Homo sapiens: one gene and its partners. The protein of the gene in region 1 purifies or fractionates together with the protein of each later gene. This does not show direct contact. Each region holds a gene or a part of one and is shown in the gene's direction. Other genes may lie near its edges.

Region 1 (3,542 bases):
AATAGCGTGTGTACCCCAGCCAGATAGCAGCAGGGCTGACGCTGGAGTCAGGTCTCCTGGTGCTCGGTGTGCTTTTAGTTCTGCTGGAAGCAGAATGTCACAGGAGCGTATGAACAGAATCCTCAGTTATGTGACATAGGTAGCTGGTGCTGGTAGTTCAAGAAAGGGGGAAGCCAGAATTGTTGGTGCAAGTTTCCCTGGGTGGAGCCTCATAGAAGGTAGACCTGTATGAGTACACCCAGCTGTGAGGGTGGGAAAGAAGGCGGGTTCCCAGGCCAGCTGGGACCATATCCTCAGACCTCTTTGCCACTGAACTGGCCGAGGCCTGGCTGATCAGGCCTTTTTCTATGTTAGATCAAGGTTCAGCAGATTGCCATGGAGATGCAGCTGACTCCTTTCCTCATCCTCCTTCGCAAAACCTTGGAGCAGCTCCAAGAGAAGGACACAGGCAACATCTTCAGCGAGCCGGTCCCTCTGTCTGAGGTAACCGAATTGGACGAAGTAAGAATCCCTTCCCCTCACTCCACCTTCTCTCTGTTCCTCTCCCAGTTGGACCCCTGCTGCAGGTCTGGGCCAGGACTAGATGGGGACCTTGAAGAGAGGGGCTGGTGGCTCTGGGGCAGGATGAACTGGAGCCACATGTATCACCTGGACTCTGTCTTGTCCCTGTCACACCCCAAGGGCCCAGAATGGGAGGCAGTCTGCACTCCTTCCCCAGAGGCAGGGACTGAGTCTGCCAAATGAATAATCCCAGGGCAGGAAGACACTTTCGGGGTGCTGAACCCTAGAACGGAGACTTTAGAAGGCTCAGCACCTAAAGAACCAGCTCTGAAGCCCTAGGTCCTGACTGGCAGACTCTTCTCTCTAAAAGGTATAAAATGAGAGGCCTGAGGCAGCAGCCTCCTTATAAGTTACTGTTAAGTAAAAAGAGCTGTAGGAATGCAAGGTGGTGTTTATTTTCAGAGGAGTCCCCAAGCCATTTTCTTACTAAAGCCTCATATAGTCTAGAAAGTATATTTGGCTCTACTTTCATCATTTTCCAGGAGAGGAAAAGTAGGCCCAGAGAGGTTAAGAGACTTGCCAAAGTCACACAGCTTGTGACTGGTAAAGTCAGGACCAGAATCCAGCTTTCCTTTCCCCTGTGCTATATGCCTGCCTCTAACTGTGGTGGGAGGAGGTTGCTGGATGTGTTTCAGGGGGGCTTGTTAGGAGCAGGGTTCGGGGCAATAAGGAGGATATCTCCACTTAAAACAAACCTGCCCTGCCCTTCCAGGTACCTGACTACCTAGACCACATCAAAAAGCCCATGGACTTTTTCACCATGAAGCAGAACTTGGAGGCTTACCGCTACCTGAATTTTGATGATTTTGAGGAGGACTTCAACCTCATCGTCAGCAACTGCCTCAAGTATAACGCCAAGGACACCATCTTCTACCGGGCAGCAGTGCGGCTTCGTGAGCAGGGTGGTGCTGTGCTCCGCCAGGCCCGGCGCCAGGCAGAAAAAATGGGCATTGACTTTGAGACGGGCATGCATATCCCCCACAGCCTGGCTGGAGATGAGGCCACACACCACACTGAAGATGGTGGGTGATATATCACACACACATATAAGAGGCCAATGCCGGGGATGGACAGCTTTCCAAAAGTCCCCTCCTGGGAGCAGGCAGTGTAGGCAGAAAGCAGCTAGGCTGAGCAGTGGCAAGCTATCCCCAGGAATGCTCCCCAAGAAGCCAGACTGGGTGAATGGATAGCAGTGCCCGCCATTCCACATCTTGGTGCTGCTATTTTACAGCTGTTCCTGGTGAGAAGCCCAGGGGGGATGAGTGGGTTTCTTGCTGCCTGCCCAGGTTCAAGGGGCCCTGAGGGCTGCCCTGAGTCTGACCTTTCCCCTCCAACCCTACCCCTAGCAGCCGAGGAAGAGCGGCTGGTCTTGCTGGAGAACCAGAAGCACCTGCCAGTGGAAGAACAGCTAAAGCTGCTTCTGGAGCGGCTGGACGAAGTGAATGCCAGCAAGCAGAGTGTGGGCCGCTCACGGCGTGCAAAGATGATCAAGAAAGAGATGACGGCACTGCGGCGGAAGCTTGCCCATCAGCGAGAGACGGGACGTGATGGCCCTGAGCGGCATGGCCCCTCGAGCCGGGGTAGTCTGACACCCCACCCGGCAGCCTGTGACAAGGATGGGCAGACAGATAGTGCGGCAGAGGAGAGCAGCAGCCAGGAGACAAGCAAAGGTCTGAATCCCATGGCAAGGTGGACCCCAAAGCAAGTCAGACTTTGGCTCTGCAGCACACACTCAACCCCTGCCATTCCCCAGGCAGAGGTCCCTCCTACACAGCTAGCTGTACTTTCTCCCTCATTCCCCAATCAGGGGCCTCTTAGCTGCCTCTCTGGCTATTTGTATAAGAGTTAATCTTCCAAATTCCAAGCCCCTAAAATGATCTCCCCAACGTTAGCTGGAGTAATGGTCCTATATGCCCAGGGCATGACCCTGGATATCTACCCTTCTCAAATCAGGCCCCTCACCAACTCTCCTTCTTTCTTTCTCTGCTCCAGGCCTGGGTCCCAACATGTCCTCAACCCCCGCACATGAGGTGGGCAGGAGAACCTCAGTTCTGTTCTCCAAAAAGAACCCGAAGACAGCTGGACCGCCCAAGAGGCCGGGCCGGCCCCCCAAAAACCGGGAGAGCCAGATGACCCCCAGCCACGGAGGCAGTCCTGTGGGGCCCCCCCAGCTCCCCATCATGAGTTCCCTGCGTCAGCGCAAGCGGGGTAGGAGCCCCCGGCCCAGTTCGAGCTCAGACAGCGACAGTGATAAGTCCACAGAAGACCCCCCAATGGGTGAGCCTTACCATCACCCAGCCCCCCAAGAGAGTGAGCAAAGCTGCCATTCTTCCCAGCATACTCCCAGTTACCCCTTTATTTGCCCATAAAAGAGCGAGCTAGAAGGGTCCTTAGGAATCCTTTAACTCCACTCACTCATCTTACAGTTGGGAAAACTGAGGCCCAGAGACACTACGACCCAGCTAAAGTCCCATCCAGGGCCCCCTGCCTCCATTGTATCACTTTACCTTTTCTCTTCTCACCTTCCTTGGGGATCTCCTGCCCTTTAAGCCATTTGTGTCCTAAAGCCAGTAACTGCCGAGGGAAGCAAGGGGTGGAGCAGGGCTGTGGCCAACTGTGGTAGACACTGCCCAGAGCTAGCTCTGCTGGCCAAGGTTGGAGGAATTTTCCAGCACAGAAGGGGAACCCAAGCTCCAAGTCCCTCTTACCTCCATGTCATCTCTGATCTACATCTTCCTGACCGGTTCCTTCCCTCCTCCCCTTCCCTTCAACCAAGACTTACCAGCCAATGGCTTCAGCGGTGGAAACCAACCAGTGAAGAAGAGTTTCTTGGTATACCGTAATGACTGCAGCCTTCCCCGGAGCAGCTCAGACTCTGAGTCCAGCAGCAGTAGCAGTAGCAGCGCTGCTTCAGACCGGACCAGGTACCAGCCCTCCAGATCGAGGCCAACCTCAGGGGATGCCCTTCCAGGGCTCTTGGG
Region 2 (2,873 bases), about 180 Mb from region 1:
GAATACAATGGTGCCATCTCGGCTCACCACAACCTCTGCCTCCTGGGTTCAAGCGATTCTCCTGCCTCAGCCTCCTGAGTAGCTAGGATTACAGGCATGCGCCACCATACCTGGCTAATTTTGCATTTTTAGTAGAGAAGGGGTTTCTCCATGTTGGTCAGGTTGGTCTCAAACTCCTGACCTTAGGTGATCCACCTGCCTCAGCCTCCCAAAGTTCTGGGATTACAGACATGAGCCACCGTGCCCGGCCTCTGTAGCTATTTTTTAAAAAATTAAACTCTGAACAAGGAAGAGAGAGAAGAGGTCAAGTGTTCAGCCTTTAGGAGTAAGGGATGTTGATACCATCAAGCCTCAGTTAAGAATATCAGTTATAAGGCACTAGTTTTCCAGTGTTGGTCTACAGATGGGTGCCAGGTCATAATATTGTTTCACCACTCTGTGTAGTAAAAATGAAAAAAAAATAAGGATAATGAAGTTTTTTATATCTAACATTTATCCATCTAAAGGACAATCCTTTACTCTGATATTGTGTTTCTGGCTCTTTCTTTTTTTTTTAAATCAAAATTTCATTCCAGGCTGGGCATGGTGGCTCATGCCTGTAATCCCAGCACTTTGGGAAGCTGAGATGGGTGGATTACTTGAAACAAGGAGTTCAACATGGTGAAACCTGTCTCTACTAAAAATACAAAAATTAGGAGTCTGGGCAACAGAGTAAGACTATGTCTCAAAAAAAGAAAAAAAAAAATTAGGTGGGCATGGTGGCTTGGGCGTGTAGTCCCAGCTACTTGGGAGGCTGAGGCAGGAGAATTGCTTGAACCTGAGAGGTGGATGTTGCAATGAGCAGAGATCGCACCACTGCACTCCAGACTGGGTGACAGAGCGAGACTCAGTCTCAGAAAAAAAAAATAGTTTCTTTTGTGAAACAATGATGGTGGTAAATGATAGTTATTGTTAATATTTTAAATATCAACTGGGCTAGATAACAATTTGAGAATCTTTTTTCGTAATACTTTTTAAATTGATTTGTGGAATCTATGATCTGGGAGCCATTGGTGTAAATCAAGTCAAGTATCTAACATCTTCTTTTATGTTACATGATGATAGGCACTTTTCTGTGACCTTTTCCAGGAACATGAGAACATCAATGGTGTACCGCCTCATTTGGGACATCCCTTCCACTGGGGTGGGCATGAGCGTTCTTCTACCACCAAGCCTCCATTCAAGCCCCATGGATCTAGAGATCATCATCATCCCCACAAGCCACACGAACATGGACCCCCACCTCCTCCAGATGAAAGAGATCACTCACATGGACCCCCACTTCCACAAGGCCCTCCTCCACTATTGCCCATGTCCTGCTCAAGTTGTCAACATGCCACTTTTGGCACAAATGGGGCCCAAAGACATTCTCATAATAATAATTCCAGTGACCTCCATCCCCATAAGCATCATTCCCATGAACAGCATCCCCACGGACACCATCCCCATGCACACCATCCTCATGAACATGATACCCATAGACAGCATCCCCATGGACACCACCCCCATGGACACCATCCTCATGGACACCACCCCCATGGACACCATCCCCATGGACACCATCCCCACTGCCATGATTTCCAAGACTATGGACCTTGTGACCCACCACCCCATAACCAAGGTCACTGTTGCCATGGCCACGGCCCACCACCTGGGCACTTAAGAAGGCGAGGCCCAGGTAAAGGACCCCGTCCCTTCCATTGCAGACAAATTGGATCTGTGTACCGACTCCCTCCTCTAAGAAAAGGTGAGGTGCTGCCACTTCCTGAGGCCAATTTTCCCAGCTTCCCATTGCCGCACCACAAACATCCTCTAAAGCCAGACAATCAGCCCTTTCCTCAATCAGTCTCTGAATCATGTCCAGGGAAGTTCAAGAGTGGGTTTCCACAAGTTTCCATGTTTTTTACACATACATTTCCAAAATAAAATGTGATTCCTTTGAAGAGGAAAATGAATAATACATTGAATTAGAAACATAAATAAAATGACCAGTAATTGTGAAAATTACAGTTCTTTTCAACCTACTTTCATACTGAAGATGCAGCAAAATGTGAATGGGAAAAGAGATGGCCTGAGAAGAGAGATCAAATGGAAAGGAGAGGAAAGAACTCAGTGCTGCCTATTAGTAGTTAATTCTGTCACTCACCACTACATCACTTGAGACAAATCTATGCCACTCAGAATCTCCTTCTTTCCTGGACTTAACTCTAATTCTAGAGTCTCTGTTACTGCTTGGGCTATACCTGGGCATACTAATAAAGTATGGTATTGAAACTATTGTTATCATTTATTTCATTTTATTTTCTAAGTTCCAGGGCACATGTGCAGGGTGTGCAGGTTTGTTATATAGGTAAAAGCATGCCATGGTGCTTTGCTGCACCTATCAACCCATCACCTAGGTATTAAGCCCAGCATGCTCTAGTTCTTTTTCCGAATGCTCTCCTGCTTCCCACCCTCCCCCTATTTATTATTATTAAAGTGACCTAAATTCTCTCCTCGTGATTATTACTAGGCATCTAAATTTTCTTTTGGAAAAATAAGTTCTAAATTCAGTATTGAAGCAAACAAACCTCTGGCTATAAATTGCAAAGAAGCTTGCTAACATGAATCATGACCATAAATTCAGGTGCATAAGAAATGTCACTTTATGCTCAGAACAAATTAATTTCTATTTGAGGATGCCATCCTACTGGCTTAGTGGAAATTTAACCCCAGTCCTTCTTGGAGTCCCCTTTCCCTGCCCTGCTACTTTCCACACAAAGTTGGGCCACAGTTCTAGGATCTCACACCATGCCAAGCTGTCCAGGTGGTAGGAAGCAGGATAGTGACTATCC
Region 3 (3,652 bases), on another chromosome or scaffold:
AGGCACACGCCACCATGCCCAGCTAACTTTTGTATTTTTCATAGAGTCGGGGATTTGCCATGTTGCCCAGACTGATCTTGAACTCCTAAGCTCAAGTGAGCCACCTGCTTTGGCCTCCATAAGTGCTGGGATTACAGGTGTGAGTCACCGCACCCCGACTGATTTATGCTTTTTAAACATCACTCTGGCAGCTGTGTGGAGCCTGGACATGGGTGAATTGATACTGGAAGCTGGGAGATGAACAAGTGGTTCAGGCAAGAGATGAGATTGGCTTGGACCAGTGTGGTGATAGTAGGAAGAAAGTGGGTGTGTTCTGGAGGCAAAGCCTAGTGGACTTGGTGGGGCCGAGGATACAGAGAGGCTGTGGGCTTTTGCTTCATTGAGGGGACTCTACGACACCCACACTTTGAAGGAGAGCTTCCTACCTGTGTCTCCATGCTGGGGGTTGCATGAGAGGTGCCAATAGACTAGTGCAAATGGCAGGAAAATGAGATCTTTTCTTTCCTAAAGTCTCCTTTATAGGTAGGATTTCGGGAGCACTTTCTGTCCTCGAAAGCAAGTGCCTTGTGACACTGAAATCTTCTCCCACAGCAGACCTTGCTTTGGGGGAGATGGGGGAAGCCAGTGGAAAGGAAAAACCAGAGGCCAAGATCACATCTAAGCACCTCCACCCCCCAAGTGTGTTTGCAGTCCTGGATTTCAGCTTTGGGAAAGGAGTCCTCCCTGTCCCTCTTGCTGAGGTTGCGAGGAGGGTGATCCATGGGGCAAAAAGCTGACATAGTGCGGTCCCAGGCCTCATTAGCCACTGTGACAGTGGGAGCTCGCTGGAGCAAGGAGGCCTTTGGAAGACTTGGTTTAAAGGAAAGAAGCTGCACTCACAAAACAGTGGCTTCCTTCTCAAGCCTAGTTGTTATAACAATTAAGCCACCACAAAATCTGCTCCCTTAATAATAGCCTCCCATGGGACAGCCCTGACCCAGAATAATCCCTAGGCACTCTGGGGTGTTTTGTGGAGGACAGGGTTAGATGGGGAATTGGCTTGGTGCGGGGTGTAGGTCTGCATGCTGTCACCTGTTGGTCTCTGGGCAGTCAAGGAGTCCTTTCGAGGGCACCTTCCTTACTGTATAGGGTCACTGCCTCTTTTTTAGGAGCCCCTCCTCCAGGACTTTCCGACCTGGTCCAAGGCTGCCATGGTATTACTATCTGGCACCCATATGGATCTCTAGCCACTGTGCTGAGGGCTTTACACTGTTCTTATTTATTCTCACCAGCTGATTCTGGCCCACAGATGTGTTTAGTTTGGCCCTTTCAAAGTGTTGTAAAAATTCTGACTCAGTTGCCAACATTTTAAATTAAGGACATTTATGTAAAAAGCCAGTTCCAGTTTATCTCCTCTGGGAGGTATGTCTTTCCCAAGGTCCCTGGTCTATGAGGAGAGGAGCTAGGATTTGAACCCATCAACAACTTCTGCTTTTAATACTGTGGGAGATGCTGGCTCGGAAGTACCTTCTTTGCAGGAAATGAAGAGAAATGGAATTCGCTTACAGGATTGCAAAAGAAAATGGGTGGGTGCACTTTTAGCACCTCCCCCCCACTCCACCCACCGATGTCAGGACAAAGCTGGGTTGCGCTGGGCTGGGCTGAGCTGAGGAAGACGTAGGCTAGAATCAGGAGTCAGGATTCTGTCAGTCAGCCTTTGTCACACTCTCTCTTTTTTTTTTTTTTTTTTTTTTTTTTTTGAGATAAGGTCTTACTCTGTCGCCAAGGCTGGCGTGCAGTGGCACGATCATGGCTCACTGCAGCCTTGACCTCCCTGACTCAAGCTATCCTCTCACCTCAGCCTCCTGCATAGCTAGGACCTCAGGCATGTGCCACTACAACTGGCTAATTTTTAAATTTTTTGTAGAGATGAGTCCCCCTACGTTCCCCAGGCTGGTCTCGATCTCTTGGGCTCAAGAAATCCTCCAGCCCCGGCCTCCCAAAGTGCTGGGATTACAGGTGTCGCACCCTTGACACGCAGACTCTGGAAGGCAGTGAGGGTGGCAGCTGTGGGTTGCTGAGCTGTTTGTACTCTGCTGCGCAGAGACGGAGAAGTCAGAAGGTCAAGAGCACGGTCTCCTGAATCAAATACAGTCACTGACATCTTGGGCAGGTCACTTAACCTCTGAGCTTCAGTTTCCTCCTCTGCAAAAGGGAAGCAGCCATGATATATGCCTATAACAAAGGGCTGCTCTAGGGACTCGTTGAGGTCCCTGTGGACCCTGTGGAACCCCCTCCCGCTACTGTGAGCGCTTAGCAGTCTTAGCCATCCTTGTTCCTGCGTTTGTGCTGCTTGCACCACCAGTGTCCCTTGGAACCTCAGCCTCTGGAGGGCACTTTACCGGCATCTTTGAAGCTGGGCGGCAGGCAGCCTCAATGAGCCTTCCTGCCATCCTGGTCCTGCTGGTGGTGGGCACTGGGGTAGAGAGAAGCTCCCGGCTAAGATCAAGTCCAAGGCAGGAGGGCCATCCTGGTCAGCTGAGAGATCTGGGTGTTCACACCCACCTTAGAGAGCAGATGCTCACTAGTCTCTGCAGGGCTGCAGTAAGATGGTGGCATCCCAGGGCTCAGCAGGAATGGACTGGGGTTGGGGGCAGCTGGAGTTAGGTGCAGATGGGCTGGGCAGTGGGGCTTTCTCTCTACTGACACAGACTCCCTCCCTATCCTTTGCTGTGGGGAGTCAGTCAGGGAACACAGGGGAGCGTGCTCTGAACCCTGAGCCCCCAATGTGTTCCCACATTAGGACTCAGCCACAGGCGAGCTGTAAGACCCAGAGCAGGTTAACGCATCACCTGCTGTGCTCCCCTCCAAGGGGATGAGAGCAGGCTCTGCCACCTGGGACTCGTGAGGATTATAGGAAACAGTGGTGGGAAAACACTTTCAGCAGCCAGGAGCTGATGGAGGGTAAAAAGGCAGCTCAGCATGCGCCTGGGGATCAGACCTCATGGATTCAGTCCCATCTCAGCCACTTACTAGCAGGACAAGGTGCTGGCCTCACTTGTAAATGGAGCTCACAGCTCACCTGGTTAGGAACAGGAGATGATGTGGATAAAGGAAGACTCCGCGTGAGCTCAGTATGAGGCCCCTATGTGAGAGTTGTCCTTAATACCTTGAAGTTAGATGTTGCAGTTGAGGTAGAGTTTATTTGTACGTTTATCTGGGAAGGATGGTGGGGAGTAGGAGGGCAGGGTAGCCCAGCCCAGGACCAGTCACCCTGGGCCTGATGTGTCTCAGGGACCCAGCCTGGAGTGTCCCCCGCCTCTCCCCCGCTTCTGTACACTGCTGACCACCACTCGCAGGACTAGGCCCTCAGTGTTTTCTGTGCTGGCTTGTCCCTAACTTCCGACAGCATGGTCCTCCTGGAAGAATCAGTCTTGTTTGCTGTCCTCTACCCACCTACCTCCCTAGAGGACTTGTGGCTCAGGAGGCCTTTGCAGTGGTGGGCCTGAGTGTCCTTGGGTGGCAGCTGGGACTGGGCAGGTCATGGTCACTATTCAGTTTGGGCTTGCTGATGCCCCCATGTCCTCTCCCTCTACAACAGCTTTGGTTAGACCCTTGCTCAACCAAGGGCTCTGGGCTCAGGAGGTGGGAGATGCAGCCTTTTAGAATCCCA

The links.
Region 2: the proteins of BRPF1 (region 1) and HRG purify together in Homo sapiens (affinity purification with mass spectrometry, with the first as the bait; one large-scale study listed by BioGRID). This does not show direct contact.
Region 3: the proteins of BRPF1 (region 1) and JADE2 purify together in Homo sapiens (affinity purification with mass spectrometry, with the first as the bait; one large-scale study listed by BioGRID). This does not show direct contact.

Annotation. Positions count from the first base shown.
Region 1 is NC_000003.12:9,741,671-9,745,212, forward strand, and holds part of BRPF1 (peregrin), read left to right. Parts: intron 1-354; coding exon 355-501; intron 502-681; exon of another isoform or gene 682-871; intron 872-1,273; coding exon 1,274-1,583; intron 1,584-1,907; coding exon 1,908-2,231; intron 2,232-2,553; coding exon 2,554-2,838; intron 2,839-3,337; coding exon 3,338-3,485; intron 3,486-3,542. UniProt on the Homo sapiens protein: Scaffold subunit of various histone acetyltransferase (HAT) complexes, such as the MOZ/MORF and HBO1 complexes, which have a histone H3 acetyltransferase activity.
Region 2 is NC_000003.12:186,675,919-186,678,791, forward strand, and holds the end of HRG (histidine-rich glycoprotein precursor), read left to right. Parts: intron 1-1,104; coding exon of another isoform or gene 1,105-1,128; coding exon 1,129-1,965; 3' UTR 1,966-2,316; downstream 2,317-2,873. UniProt on the Homo sapiens protein: Plasma glycoprotein that binds a number of ligands such as heme, heparin, heparan sulfate, thrombospondin, plasminogen, and divalent metal ions. Binds heparin and heparin/glycosaminoglycans in a zinc-dependent manner.
Region 3 is NC_000005.10:134,532,026-134,535,677, forward strand, and holds part of JADE2 (E3 ubiquitin-protein ligase Jade-2), read left to right. Parts: exon of another isoform or gene 1-1,520; coding exon of another isoform or gene 1,521-1,565; intron 1,566-3,652. UniProt on the Homo sapiens protein: Scaffold subunit of some HBO1 complexes, which have a histone H4 acetyltransferase activity. Acts as an E3 ubiquitin-protein ligase mediating the ubiquitination and subsequent proteasomal degradation of target protein histone demethylase KDM1A.